Linked DNA regions of Homo sapiens. The protein of the gene in region 2 purifies or fractionates together with the protein of the main gene of each other region. This does not show direct contact. Each region holds a gene or a part of one and is shown on either strand. Other genes may lie near its edges.

The links. Proteins that work in one complex are often made in the same cells at the same time.
Region 1: the proteins of SLAMF7 (region 2) and PTCD2 purify together in Homo sapiens (affinity purification with mass spectrometry; 3 studies listed by BioGRID and IntAct, with this or other methods). This does not show direct contact.

The regions. Positions count from the first base shown.
Region 1 is NC_000005.10:72,330,100-72,337,461, reverse strand, and holds part of PTCD2 (pentatricopeptide repeat-containing protein 2, mitochondrial), read right to left. Parts: intron 6,205-7,362; coding exon 6,087-6,204; intron 2,445-6,086; coding exon 2,366-2,444; intron 1,669-2,365; coding exon 1,577-1,668; intron 1-1,576. UniProt on the Homo sapiens protein: Involved in mitochondrial RNA maturation and mitochondrial respiratory chain function.
Region 2 is NC_000001.11:160,734,646-160,742,420, reverse strand, and holds the start of SLAMF7 (SLAM family member 7 isoform a precursor), read right to left. Parts: upstream 3,175-7,775; 5' UTR 3,120-3,174; coding exon 3,065-3,119; intron 1-3,064. UniProt on the Homo sapiens protein: Self-ligand receptor of the signaling lymphocytic activation molecule (SLAM) family.

The DNA.
Region 1 (7,362 bases), on a different chromosome or scaffold from region 2:
CCTAAGTAGAGGACAAGAAGGCTGGGAATTTCAATGCTGAATAAGTGATGCTCTAGTGCTGTGTGGTGTTTTTTTTTTGGCCTCCTAGAATCATAGAATGGTATGAATGGAAAGAATTATTGAATCCAGAGGTCAGCAAACTATGACCCTTGGGCTAAATGTAGCCTACAGCTAAGAATGACTTTAACATTTTTAAAGGCCTGTAAAAACAAAAACAAAGAATATGGGGCAGAGATCACATGAGGCAGAGACATATGTGGCCCCCAAAGCCTAAAATATTTACTATCTAGCTTTTCATAAAAAAAGTTTGCTGACTCCCAAATCTAACCATCTCATTTGTAAAATGAGATAGGTGATCAGTTCACAGCTATATAAGTCATATATATAAGCTATATAATACCAAAGTTGAGACTAGACTCCAAGTTTCTCAATTTCCACTTGGTTTTCTTTCCACTATAACCCAGCTATCCCCTTGTTTTGGAAAACTGGTATTGCTACATTCTTCAGGGGAGTTTTTCAACAGCCCATGTTCTTCTACTTCGCTTCATGTTCCTTTGTTTTCAGTATAAAGAGGTTTTGTGTGCCAGGTTTCCAAAGTTTAAGTGATACGAATGACAACAGTAATACATTAAACATTGATCATTTCACTATTTCAATGATCATTCACTAAACATTGAAGAAAGAGTTTCTATGGGCAAGAAATAATCCTGGTACAGTAATAATAAAATAACTTTTTTTTTTTTTTTTTTTTGAGACAGAGTCTCACTCTGTCACCCAGGCTGGAGTGCAGTGGCACAACCTTGGCTCACTGCAACCTCTGCCTCCTGGGTTCAAGCAATTCTCCTGCCTCAGCCTCCAGAGTAGCTGGGATTACAAGGTGCATGCCACCACGCCTGGCTAATTTTTTGTATTGATAAAAGAACGTATAAGTCATGGTCTCTGTCCTTGGACTTCATTTTCATGTCACATACGTTTATTAAAGAACTACTGGATACCAGGCACTGTGTTAGGTGGTGGGATACAAAGAAACCTCAAGGAGCTCACACTCAAGTGGAGAGAATGGAACGTGCATCTGCTAAGTACATTAAGCTGTGTCAGAAGTACCAGGGAGGTGACACAAATAGAGCAAAATTAAGGGATATCTGGAGGTGACAAACATCACTTCCAGTTTCGGTGATTGCAAAAGCCTTCACATATGAGGACAAAGTAGTCCTTGAGCTCACCAATGAAGGAAGCTAAGATTTCCATAGACAAGGACAACAGGGAAGATGGATCTAGCAGAGTCCAGCATGCGTGATGACTTTAAAGCAGAGCCTGAACCCAACACATTGCCTCTTGTTCTCACTATCTACACAATCACCAGAGAAGAGTGAAAGATGAAAAAATTACTTTTCCCATAAAACTGCCTGATATGGCTAACTTGAGTTTTCTAAAAATAAAAACATTTAAAATTAAAACATTTGCACCAGATGGAAAACAGATTTCAGAGGAACTGAATTTTATTTGTAGAGAGAAGAAAAATCCTCTCTCAAAGACTACACACAATGCTCTCAAAGTTAAGAGGAAAGAGTCTTACCAGTTTGTAGCAAATTGCAAAAGCAAGAACATAGGTATCTTTGGTGAACTTCACATCTTGGTTTTTCATCTCTATCAATACTTGCAAAGCACCTGCCAAAAGTGAAGAGTGGATCGCAGTGTTAGAGTTCCTCTACTGTTGGCCCCCAAAGCTCTCATCTGTTCAGCACCATCTACAGAAAAGTGTATTTCAACAAAATAAAAGCTATTCCTCAAAGTCATTTAGCAATTAACTAAATGTTGAAATAAACTATCAAGTCAAACAGGAAGAACTAATGTTTTAAAAGCTGCTTCACAATTTTAGCATAAGTAAAATCTGGGATATTTAGTTTAAGGGATGACATGCAATGCAATGTTTTCAAACTTCCTAAGGTCTCCAGAATTCAGCCACTTATCAGGGATATAAGAATCATTTTTTTTTTTTTTTTTTTGAGACGGAGTCTCGCTCTGTCGCCCAGGCCGGACTGCGGACTGCAGTGGCGCAATCTCGGCTCACTGCAAGCTCCGCTTCCCGGGTTCACGCCATTCTCCTGCCTCAGCCTCCCGAGTAGCTGGGACTACAGGCGCCCGCCACCGCGCCCGGCTAATTTTTTGTATTTTTAGTAGAGACGGGGTTTCACCTTGTTAGCCAGGATGGTCTCGATCTCCTGACCTCATGATCCACCCGCCTCAGCCTCCCAAAGTGCTGGGATTACAGAAGAATCATTTTTGCATGACTCATTTTTCCCCCTAGTTCCTATGCCAGCAAACATGGCAGAATTTTTCAGCAAATAGAAATTGCAGTACTTACTTTTATATTTGCCTTTGATAAATAACATATCCATCAAAATATTGAATGATGTGGAGTCTGAGAAGAAACCTCGTAAATGCTAACGAAGAAGAACAATACAGTTTGGTTAAAAGTTAAAACTATTTATTGAGGAGGTACTTTTACTGTCTCTTATCTAGCCAGGTCTTATTATTCTGCATGCTTTACTCATTTGGCCTTCTGAATTCTCTAATATATTTTATATACCCAGGTTTTATTTTTGAAAAGTTGGCCGGGCGTGGTGGCTCACGCCTATAATCTCAGCACTTTGGGAGCCCAAGGCAGGTGGATCACGAGGTCAGAAGTTCAAGACCAGCCTGGCCAACATGGTGAAACCCCGTCTCTACTAAAAATACAAAAATTAGCTGGGCATGGTGGTGGGCACCTGTAATCCCAGCTACTCAGGAGGCTGAGGCAGAGAATTGCTTGAACCCAGGAGGTGGAGGCTGCAGTAAGCCGAGATCACGCCACTGCACTCCAGCCTGGGTGACAGGGCGAGACTCCGTCTCAAAAAGAAAAAAAAAAAAAGAAAAAAGTTAAAATGCTGTCCACTCTCTTGGCTGTCATGCTGAGAGGTATAGCAAGAGATCTCTGGGTTTCATAATTACCATGAAGGACGTCTTTAAGGAACCGTCATTTGTCATGCTTAGGAGAAAAGAAACTAGCCAGTTAACCCTGGCAGAGTGGTCCTGGAAACTAGGTGCCAGCTATTAACATGAAATGGCAGCTATAAATATACTTGAGGACTAAGGCAGGAGGGTCTCACACAACTATGGTCTTTTTTTGGCAACGGATAATACAGAATTGATTATTCGCCTTTTGAAATAATTCTCCAAAACAGTGGTTCTCAACATTTTTTTCCAACTTGTCTGTATGTATTTATTTAATTGACAAATAAAAATTGTATATATTTGGCCAGGTGTGGTGGCTCACGCCTGTAATCCCAGTACTTTGGGAGGGAGAGGCGGGATCACTTGAGGCCAAGAGTTCAGGACCAGCCTGGGCAATACAGCAAGATCCCATCTCTTAAAAAAAATAATAAAAATTTAAAAAATTAGCTGGGTGTGGTGGCACAAGGCTGGAATCCTAGCTACTTGGGAGACTGAGGTAGGACGATCACTTGAACCCAAGAGTTATGAGACTGCAATGAGCTATGATAATAGTGCCACTGTATTCCCGCTTAGGTGACGGAGCAAGACCCTGTATCCAAAAAAAACCCCAAAAAACAGTATGTTGTTTTGAAATATGTATATATTACAGAATGGCTAAGCCAAGCTAATTAACATATGCATTACTTCACATACTCATTTTGTGTGGTGAAAGTACATAAAACCTATTCTTTAGGCAATTTTGAAGAATACAATACATTGTCATTAACTATAGTCACTATGTTGTACAGAGAAATCCCTTGAACTTATTCCATCTTACTGAAATTTTGTATCCTTTGACCAACATCTTGCTAACATCTCAACATTTTGTGTGCCATGATAATGGGACACATGGTATTCAAATGTGTCATTAAATGCCTTGCTCAAGTTCACTCTTTTCCGATCACCTACTATGCAGACCCTGTTCTAGGTGCTGAGAATAAAGAAATGATAAACAGGATATACACCCTGCTCAAAACCCTACTAGGGTTTATAATCTAGTAGAGCTTAAATTCTGGTGGAGAAGACAGTGAATAAGACAAGTGAAAAAAAATATTAATTTCAGCTATTAGTAAAGTCTATGAAGAGCAAGTAGAGAAGATGGATGGAAGGTAGTCAGGGAAGGCACTGTGAGAAGAGACCTCAGTGAGGTCAAGGAGGGAGCCTCAAGGATAAGAATGCAGAATGTTCCAGTTAGAGGCTGTGAGCTCGCCATGGCTGAGGAAGAACATGCAGGTCCAGAGTGAAGTCAGCAAGGGAGAAAGGGGAGATGGCACAATGGGCCCCCTAGGTCAGAGTCAAGGGTCTGGGTTTTCTTCTAAGTGTGAGGGAAAGCCACCAGAGCAGCCCCAGCCAATGGAAAAGCATTTTGAGTCACCAAGGATATTTTAGAATCACAATGTATGTGACTCTAAATTTTCAATTAGCCTCATTTAAAAAAGTAAACAGAAATAGACTAAATTATTTAACCCACTATATCCAAGATGTAATTTCAACATGTAATCAATATAAAAATTAACATACATTGCATTCTTTTTATAACAAGTAATTAAAATCCATCATATATTTTATACTTACAGCACATGTAAATTTGAGTTAGCCACAGTTCAATGACTCCATGTGGCTACCATGCTGGCAACACTACAGGGTTGTAAGTAGGGAACAAGAGAAGTTCGGCTAGAAGCAGGATTAGGTCCTATGTCACTTACTCGAATTTGTCCATTCTACTCCAGAAAATTTACCTATACATGACTTTTTCATATACAAGCAGGCTAAAAAAAACCCGTTTGCTTTCATCTTTTTTATTTTTGTTTTTATCACCATACTCATGGCTATGATTTATTACAGTGGGAAGCTTTTGTTTTCCTTTAACTGAAACATTAACATATGTTTATTAAAAATAGTCAAATAATACAAAAATGTATAAAGTAAAAAGTGAGAATTTTTAATAATTCTACCCCCTAAAGATAAAGTGATTTAGTGTCTATCTTTCCAGTATCTATGTATTTATATTTTGTTAAAATGTTAATGTTAATATGTGTCTTTTCTTATGGAACAAAAAAAAACAGGATCAAACTATCTGTACTGTTCCGAAACAACCTTTTCTCTGCTTACTAATATATTATGGGTATCTTTCTAATACACAGGTGTCATTAAATAGGAGCAAGTCTAGAGTTAACATGCCCACCATGTACAGAGAAAATTTTGTATAAAAAAAGAGTAAGAGGCAGAAGAACAACTCAACTTGTTATGTAAGTTCCTAAATATACAAAAAGGTACCTGGTGGCCAGCCGTGGCCCCAAAATTTAGCAAATGTTTCTGATTATGGGAAACACAGCCTCATGAAAAGCAGTCTAAGCTTACACTCCCCCAAAGTGATGTTTCTGTTCTCTACATGGCATCTAGTAATCAAAATGACTTCATAATGAATGAATGAATTTATAATGTCTCTAGGTCCTAGTTTCTTTATCTACAAAATGGAAATCTACCTTATCAGGGCTATTGTGAGAAACAAATAAAATGAAACATTTAAAGTACTTAAACACAATGCTGAAGACATAGTAAATATTCAATGAGTAGCTGTAAAAATAATTATTTACTTTTGTTTTTAGGAACAGAAAGTCAGAATATGTGACGGAAAGTATTTTGAAAATAGAAAAGCACTTCCCAAATGTAGTCTTCAACCAGAAAAATACAAATACAAAATCGAGAGGGAATACAGGTAAAGGATAGGAATGTCAGTCTTTAAATGGAGACTGTCTTAAGCTCTTCTCTATTGAAAGCCCCTAAAAAAGCAGGTGTACAACCCACATTGATACACATCCAAGGTAGGATCATCTGTACCTATACCTCCTCCACACTTGTTCTATATTACTCCACCCCCCTTCACACAAACTGACTGCAAGGAAACTTAAAAATGCAGAGATGTGCTCATTCAGCCCCAGCAGCCTTTCTTTGAAAATCTAACCCAGGAATAATGTACATAGAAGACATGCCTTTTCCAATATCACCAAAAACACACACATTGGCAGAGAAAACAATTAGGAAACAATAACCTGGTCTTTCATGAGCTCCACTGCAGATTCCTCGAGATCCAACTCGTAACACAACCTCACAAAAAGCGGTCCAAATTTATACTCCCCCAAAGTGAAATTTTTGTTCTCTGCATGGTACCTGGTAATGAAAATGATTCAATGAGCCAAAAGGTAGGACACAGGAAAAAGGACAGACACAGACTATGGCAGGTACTGTGCCAGGTACTGGGACACAACAGAGAACGAAGTCCTCTCACAGTCTGGAGGGGGAGAAATGGAGATTTCAGACAATCAGGAATCCTGGAGTGCAGAAGTACACCAATCATTTAAACAAGTAAACAGAATTTACAGCAGACTGACATAAAATAAAAGAAACAGAGGAAAAACGTATGTTGTAATCATTCTCTAAATTTAGAAACAACCCCTAGACTGAGTGTGAGCACACCTTAAGAAACAGCAGGAGTCTAGTAGCATCTGTAAGTGCATCAGAATGGGCCCCACCCAGAGGAGAACAAGGGAAAGAAGTGGGGGTGATGCTCTGTGCTCCTGGAGGCTGGTTTCATCCTCATATAGGATGGCAGACAACCAACAGTCACATTTACAATTTACAGCAACTCTCTGCTTTTCTAAGCTTGAGAAAGGTACACCTGGGCTATGATCACCTGGCTAAACAAATTAAATGTGGTTTTGAATGTTTAAGTTTTAGGAAAAGGCTAATCTCAAAGATAATGATGTCTTCTATGTGGCTTGAGATTTCTACAGGCAGCCAGTCTGCCAGTCAGAACTGCATATCACTACTGTAAATTTACTTTCAATAACCAATTCTTTTTGCTTTAGACACCAAGAGGACAATATATGACAAAATCAACACCTCATGATTACACATAAATCAGATTTTAGAAAGACTTATTCATTAAGAATCTTCATATTCATATTTCTTTCAGATTTAGATTCATATAATGAGTGAATCTAAAATACCTTGGGGAGAAGCGCTGATGATAAAACAGGATACTTTTTACCTTCTGCTAAAAATCATCGAGGAGTCAGAGTAGTATTACGCTAGTCTATTCTAAATGCATATACTACAATGATACCATAATAGAATGATGAGGTGTACTTTGATACATTTCATTATCCACTTATAGAAGTTACAAATAGGCCGGGCACAGTGGCTCACACCTGTAATCCCAGCACTTTGGGAGGCCGAACCAGGCGGATTATGAGGTCAGGAGATCGAGACCATCTTGGCTAACATGGTGAAACCCCGTCTCTACTGAAAATACAAAAAAAAAAAAAA
Region 2 (7,775 bases):
TGGATGGCTTCTCAGCAAAGTAAGCCAGAAAGTTAAGACGGCCATGAGCATTCCCCACTACATCCCCCGCCTGCCTTTGAAGGTGGAGGGAGCTGGGGCAGGAGACCCTTTGTCTTTTGCCCCAGCCAAGACTCAGATGTCTTTGCATCAGGAGGAGTCAGCTGTGAGATTTCCTCTGTAACAGGAAGGGATAACAGGTCCTGCCCTTTGTCACCTTCCTTTCCTCTTGGTTGTCACCTCCTCCCCTGTCCTGTCCCCTAGAGTCTCAAGAGTTGAGTGGAGGGAAGGAGCCCGATTATGAGGAAGATACATTATCAGTGCAGCCAGAACCAAGGGATGGTGATAAAGCAGGAAGACTTTGGGGGAGGGGAGAGTGGAAAAGCCTGCCTCCTGCTTGCCAACCCCGTCCCCAAGCACTTCTCTGAACACTTGGTGCCTCTGTCCAAATGTAGCAGTGTGTTGTGGCACTCTCCTCATGAAAACCATGAACCAGAGCATCTCAGAGCTTGGAGGAGTCTTAGGGATTACTTAGTCCAATCCCATTTCACAGATAAGAAGGCTGATATTCAGAAGGTTATGGTGATGTTTCCCAAACCAGTGGAAGGCCAGGATTAGGAGCCAAGGCTCCTAAGGCAGGATTTCACAGACTGTGCCCCATGGCGCCACCTTTGGAGGCTGTGGCAGTGCCTCAGTGTATTTCTTGGGAGCTCAGGAGGAGGTTTAAGGGGTGAGCGTAGGATAGGAGGCTATGGGACTTGCTTCCGTTAGGCTTCAACTCTATACATTGGAGTCATTTATTTGTTTTTTTCTGTGTAAAATTTCATTCCATAAAAGGAAACCATGGATTTAAAAAAAAAGGCAAAAAAAACCCAAAGTGGTTTGAAATCTATTGCACTTTACTCAAGTCCCCCTTAACGAATGTACTCACGAAAGAGCAGTGTAATTCAATGCCACACAAGGCAGCCACAGACAGAGGCTTGAAAGTTTCCCGCTTCACCACACACCTTTCCCATCACTCTAGCCCTAACCGACCACATTCACATTTAGGTTGCTCACCACTCTGCTCCTCACTCATCTCCTGCCCCCTCTTCCTTGTTTCTTCTGGTTCTTTTCAACACTCTCCCAATTCCCCTCACCCACTTTTTTGTTTTCTTTTTATTGATTGTCTCCTTGACACTACTGTATCATCAAATCATTGGCAGATTACTGTGCCCATTTTTCAGATGAGAATACTGAGGCCATGAGAACTGCTTCATGGACCCTCTGAGTTTAGCCAGGGTGGCCCCCTGTTGGTACACCCATATCCCAGAAACAGAGCTACCCGTTCTTCTCGGGCCTTTCCAGTTTCTACCTCAGATTTATGTACCTGGAGAGGGAAGAAACCCCAACTGGTACTCCCTGAGGAAGATTCAGCTCAAATGCACATGTAGTGAGCATCTCTTTGGTGCCAGGTCCAGTGATAGACGGCTTGTTATGATTAAAAGAGCACTAGCTTTCTAGCTTTCTAAACTCAATCTCTGGCTACCTTATAAATGCTGTGTTATCTTGCCCAAGAAGCGTGATCTCTCTGCTGAGCCTAAGTTTCCTCAACTGTAAAACAGGGATAATGATATCTGTCTTACAGACTCATGAGGAGGTGGTATGAAAAACACCTGCGATGTAGTAACTTAATAAATGGTGATTATTTTAATAATTATTTTGCATTTGATATGTCATTTAAAATGTCACAATAATTCTGCAACTTAGATTTCATTCTCTGTTACACACCTGAGAAGAGCAAGGCTCAGAAGGGAAGAGTAATTTGCCTACAATAATACAGCTACTAAGTCAAACCAAGGATGCGCTTGTCCAGTGCCAGGATTTGTTCCACTGCCCTGCCCACTGGAAGTTCCAGGACAATCTCTGTCTCCTTTCAGCCTCAGGAGGTACACTACACAGGCTGCCTCTGGAGGAGGGCAGAGGGGGACCTGCATGGCAGTTTTTCATACTTGTGCTCTTTCGCTGACTGATTTCAGATGGACACCTGTAGCTTTCAAAGTCTCTATAATTTTCCCCAACCCCTCCACCTTATCTCCCTCAAGTTCTATTTCTGCTCATCATTTCCGTTCAGGGAGTTTTTTTTTTGTTTTTTTTTTTTAAAGTGAGGGCCTATTCCAGAACCACCTGGTTAGACCCAGGTACCTCTCAAAAATACAAACTTCTGATGAATTCAAAGTGGGTAAGAGTCTGCTGATGCTGACCACTTAGCGATGCAGGGGAAAATATTGGGGGCACCAGCTGCCTGCGTGGTCTTGGGCAGATCACTCCAGGCAGGCTCAGATACACATAATGAAGCAGTTATGTGAAGTCCTTATAGGGGGACCTCATGGTAGTACTCCATGAGATTGATGACAGAAGAGATATTTCTCACTTATAGGGCTCCTGATCCTTTCTGAGAGCCCTTAGGATAGAAAAATCTTCAAAGACTAGAATACCAGTGACAGGTGGAGAACTGTCCTCTGTCCTCCATGGGATTAAACATAAAGTGCCTATGGTATGAGTTGGTTCTCTAAGTAGAGACTGATTACATTGCTTGAGTAAGGAAAGAAAATTCAAGTGATTCTTTCCATTTATATTACTGTTATGCATAACCAATTTTATAAATACATTTATAAGTAAATAAATACATACCTGTATAGTATCATCTTGTTCTTAAAGTTGCCCTCAAAAGGAGAGAAGGCTAGAAGATAAAGTTTCTGAGGCCCAGGAAAACTTTAACATTCCTTATCTAACTCATGGCAGAACCTGGATTAGAAAAATGGTCTCTGATACCCAGCACCACTTCTTTCAGCTCCTTCATCCCTGGGACAGTCAACAGGGGAGTCAGTTCCCAGAGCCATTTTTCCCCCTCTCTCTAGTCTCTTCCTGACCTGAGAATCAGAGATCAGAGATTGATAAAAAGCAAATGTTAGATGAGAACACAGAGCCTCCCGAGTTGAGCCAGAGGCCCAGAGTGGAACAAGAAACCTGGAACTATTCAGGATGGGGTAGACAGGAGAGTGGAAGAGAATCCGGCCGGACTCACCTGTGAGCTGCCAAAGGATATAGATGAGGGTGAGGCATGTTGGGGAACCAGCCATATTGCTCTCTGGAAGTCAGCCACTGAAATGAAGCCACTTCCCTCTTAGGTATTACTCAGACCTCTTCCCCAGCTGATATTTAAAGAAGCAGGAGGGGTCACGCCGCAGACATGTGAGATTGAGTAATTGCTAAATTATTTTCAGAGTGAATAGAGCATTTTACCTTGCCACCAGCAATCTATGAGAGATCTATTTGCTCCCCATCTTCATCAGCATTTGGTATATTCCCATTTTATATTTTAGCTGTTTTAATAGGTGCTGTAGTGATACCTCATTGTGGCTTTAATTTGCATTTCCCTAAAGCCTAATAATGTTGAACATCTTTTCATGTGCTTATTTGCCATCTATATATCCATATCCTCCTTGGTGAAATGTCTATTTATGTCTTTTGTCCATTTTATAATCAGATTCTTTATTTTTTTTACTGTTGAGCTTTGACAATTCCTTATATGTTCCAAGTATAAGAGTCATTTGTCAGATATGTGGTTTACAAATATTTTCTCTTGGTCTGTAGCCTGTCTTTTCATCTTCTTAACGGGGTCTTTGGCAGAGCAAAAATTTTAATTTTGATGAAATTCAACTTATCAGTTTTTTTTCTACCCACACTAGGGTCCAAAGGTTTTCTCCTGAAAGTTTTATAGTTTTATGTTTTACATTTAAATGTATGATCCTGTTTTAATGTAAGGTGTGAAGTTTAGGTTGAGATTCACCTAAATATATTGTCTATATTCATTGAGAACCATATCAGGTAATATGGTTGACAGTTTTTTTTTGCTTTCGACACTTGAAAAGTGTCATGACACTCCTCCCCTCCATGGTTTCCAGTGAGAAATCAGCCATCATTTAAATTGTTTTCCCTATAGGTAATGTGTCATTTTTCTCTAGCTGTTTTAAAAGTTTTTTGTTTGCCTTTGGTTTTCAGAAGTATGATTACAATGTGCGTGTTTTTTTTTCTTCTGCCTGTGGGTGTTCAATTGTTCTACTACCATGTGATGGAAAAGATGATCTTTCCTACATTGAATTACTTTTGTATCTTTATCAAAAATCAGCACTTATACTTGTGTGGGTATATTCTGGAGCTATCTATTCTATTTAACTGACTTACATAATGTAATTATTTATATATCAGAGCTTAAGTTTGCCATGTTATTATTTTCTCTTTGTTCTTCTGGGCTTTTGTTTGTTTATTTTGTTCCTCTGTTTCACTTTCCTGGCCATCCTGTGTGTTACTGGAATATTTTTTATAATTCCATTTTGATTTATCTATAATGTATCTTTTTGAAGAGTTTTTTTACTGGTTGCTGTACATATTGCATTTTACATACATAACTTTTGATCTACCTATCAGTGTTGACATTTTACCAGTTGAACTAGGTATAGAAAACTTACCTATATTAGGTTTCTTTATTAGTCTATCTTTATACTTGTCTTAAATATATTGTCTATATTCATTGAGAACCATATCGGTAAGATTATAAGTTTTGCTTCAATTGTTGAACATAATTCAGAACACTCAAGAGGAGAAGGACAATCCATTACATTTACCCATATTTTAACTCTTTTCATTGTTATTTCTTTATTTCTAATGTTTCAAGTTTCCTTCTTTTTATTTTTTTTTGGACGAAGTCTTGCTCTGTCATACAGGCTGGAGTGTAGTGGCATGATCTTGGCTCACTGCAATCTCCGCCTCCTGGGTTCAAGCGATTCTCCTGCCTCAGCCTCCTGAGTAGCTGGGACTACAGGCTCATGCCACCATGCCCACCTACTTTTTGTACTTTTAGTAGAGATCAGGTTTCGCCATGTTGGCCAGGCTAGTCTCAAACTCCTGACCTCAGGTGATCCACCAACTTTGGCCTCCCAAAGTGCTGGGATTACAGGTATGAGCCACCACACCCAGCCTTCAAGTTTTCTTCTTTAATCATTTCTTTCTGTTTCAAGATATTCTTTAGGAATTCTTTTATGATAAGCCTGCTGATAACAAATTATCTTAGTTTTCCTTCACCTGAGAATGTCTTGATTTAACCCTCATTCCTGGGTATAAAATTCTAGGTTGACAGTTTTTTTTCTTTCAACACTTGAAAAGTGTCATGACACTCCTCCCCTCCATGGTTTCCAGTGAGAAATCAGCCGTCATTTAAGTTGTTTTCCCTGTAGGTAATGTGTCATTTTTCTCTAGCTGTTTTAAAAGTTTTTTGTTTGTCTTTAGTTTTCAGAAGTGTGATTATAATGTGTCTTGGTGTGAATTTCTTTGGGTTTCTCTTATTTGTGATTCATTGAGTCTCTTGAATCTGTAGGTTTTTACCTTTTGCTAAGTTTGGGGAAATTTCATTATTTTTTGAATACTTTTTTTTCAGCCTCACATTCTCGCTTCTCTCCTAAAATTCTGATGACATGAATGTTATAAATCTTTTGTTTTTCTCCCACAGGGCTCTGAGGCTCCATTTTTTTTTTTTTTTTTTTTTTTTTTTGGCCTATTTTCACTCTGTTTTCAGATTGGGTATTTTCTATTGTTTATCTTCAAGTACACTGATTCTTTCCTTTTTCATCTCCATTTTGCAATTTTTTATTTTTTTATTTTTTCTGAGACAGAGTCTCACTCTGTTGCCCAGGCTGGAGTGCACGATCTCAGCTCACTGCAACCTCTGTCTCCTGGGCTCAAGCGATTCTCCTGCCTCAGCCTCCTAAGTAGCTGGGATTACTGGCACCCGCCACCACACCTGGCTAATTTTTATATTTTGGTAGCGACAGAGTTTTGCCATGTTGGCCAGGCTGGTCTTGTACTCTTGACCTCAGGTGATCCGCCCACCTTGGCCTCCCCAAGTGCTGGGATTGCCAGTATGAGCCACTGGCCCTGGCCTCCATTTTGCTATTAAGCTCATTAAACTCATTCAATTAGTTTTACCTTTCAGTCATTGTATTATTCAATTCTAAAATTTCCCTTTGGTTCTTCTTTATATCTTCTACTCTTTTTTTAAAGACTTTCTAGTTTTTTTGTTTATTTGTTTTAAATGTGTTCATAGCTGCTAGTTGAAGCATTTTTACTATGGTTTCTTTAAAATCCTTGTAAGATAATTCTAACGTCTGTGTTGTCTTGGTTTTGGTGTCTGTTGATTGCCTTTTGTTCATTCAAGTCAAGATTGTCCTGGTTCTTGTTATGATGAGTGATTTTTGACACAGTGATGATAAGGTAGGGGACCACATTACTGCTGAGCAGTGGTAAAAATCCAGACCCTCCATTTGGCCTTTTCTGACACCACCCAAAGCAAGAATTGGGAGGAGTGCCTCATTGCTTCAGGGAGGGAGTGCATGTTCAGTCTTCCTACTTAGCCTCTTCTGATGCCACCCCAGTGGGGAGTGGGGAGTGGGGAGGGATGATTCCTTACTGCCAAGGGGTGGGGTGGGGGGTTTAAATATAGGTTTTCCACTTGGCCTTTGCTGTTGGCGGGGGGGTGGTGTCCCATATTTCCACATGATGTTTGGCTAGAATATGGTGATTATTGTTTAAAGGCTTCTATTCCAGCAGTCCCCTTTCCAGTCTTTTGGCAGGAGAGAACAGAAAATCCTTGGGATTGGCGTTTCTAGATTATATTCTTATCTAGCACATGGCCTACAATACACAGGGGACAAAAAGAAAACACGGGTAACTCATTGTCATGTCATTCCTCATGTCCAGAGGCTCCTTGCCCCCCTTCATCTCTCAACTGTTTAGAATCTTCTTGTGTTTGTGTTTTATATATTATGTCCAGGATTTTTTTTTTAAAATTTGTAATTAGTGGCAAGAATAGAGATAAATTCACTCACTCCATCTTGTCTGTAATTTCTCATGTCTGATCACATGTTTTTATATCCATTCTCTCCACTGACTTGATTGAAATAATGGTCAAATCTTTTAAAAAAGACTTCCTGTCAAGTGGCAAAACGAATCCATGTGGACTTGAAAAACACAGTAATGATAGATAAAGCATTTTCAAATGTATTAAAATGTATGGCCTTGCTCAAAACTAAGGGAAAAATTTCTGTGAATGAGAAACAGTGCAGAAATCCACAGCACATGGAAAGGGAGGGCATATGTGCTAAAAGGAGCCTTGATACACAAATCCTGCAAATACAGGAAAAGAAAATTACACGCCAGCATCACTTATGAAGATAGTTGCAAAGATCCTAAATGACACTTTAGCAAATCAAAGCCGTTGGCATATAAAAACACACCATGACTAAATAGCATTTATCCCATGAATGTGAGAATGGGCCAATATTTCAAAAATTTATCAGCATAGTCCATCACATTGATTAAATGTAAAACAACATATGATCATCTCAGAAGACATAGTAAAAACTTTGATAAAAATATGGATTCATAATTTCAAAAATGTTTAGTAAACTTTGGCAAACATCATACTTAATGCTGAACCTTTAGAAGAAGTAGTATCAAAGTCAAGACTAAGACAAGGATTTCTCTAGTCACTGATAGTATTTATTAATTACCTGGTGTCTTGGCCAAAGCAATGAGACAAGAAAAGTAAAGAAGATGTAACTGGATTAGAAAGAGAGACAAATAATTGTTATTTTCAGACCCTATCACTGTGGATGTAGAAAATCCAAAGGAATCTGCAAACAGTGAGAACTAATAAGAGACTGAGCATAATGTCTGACCAT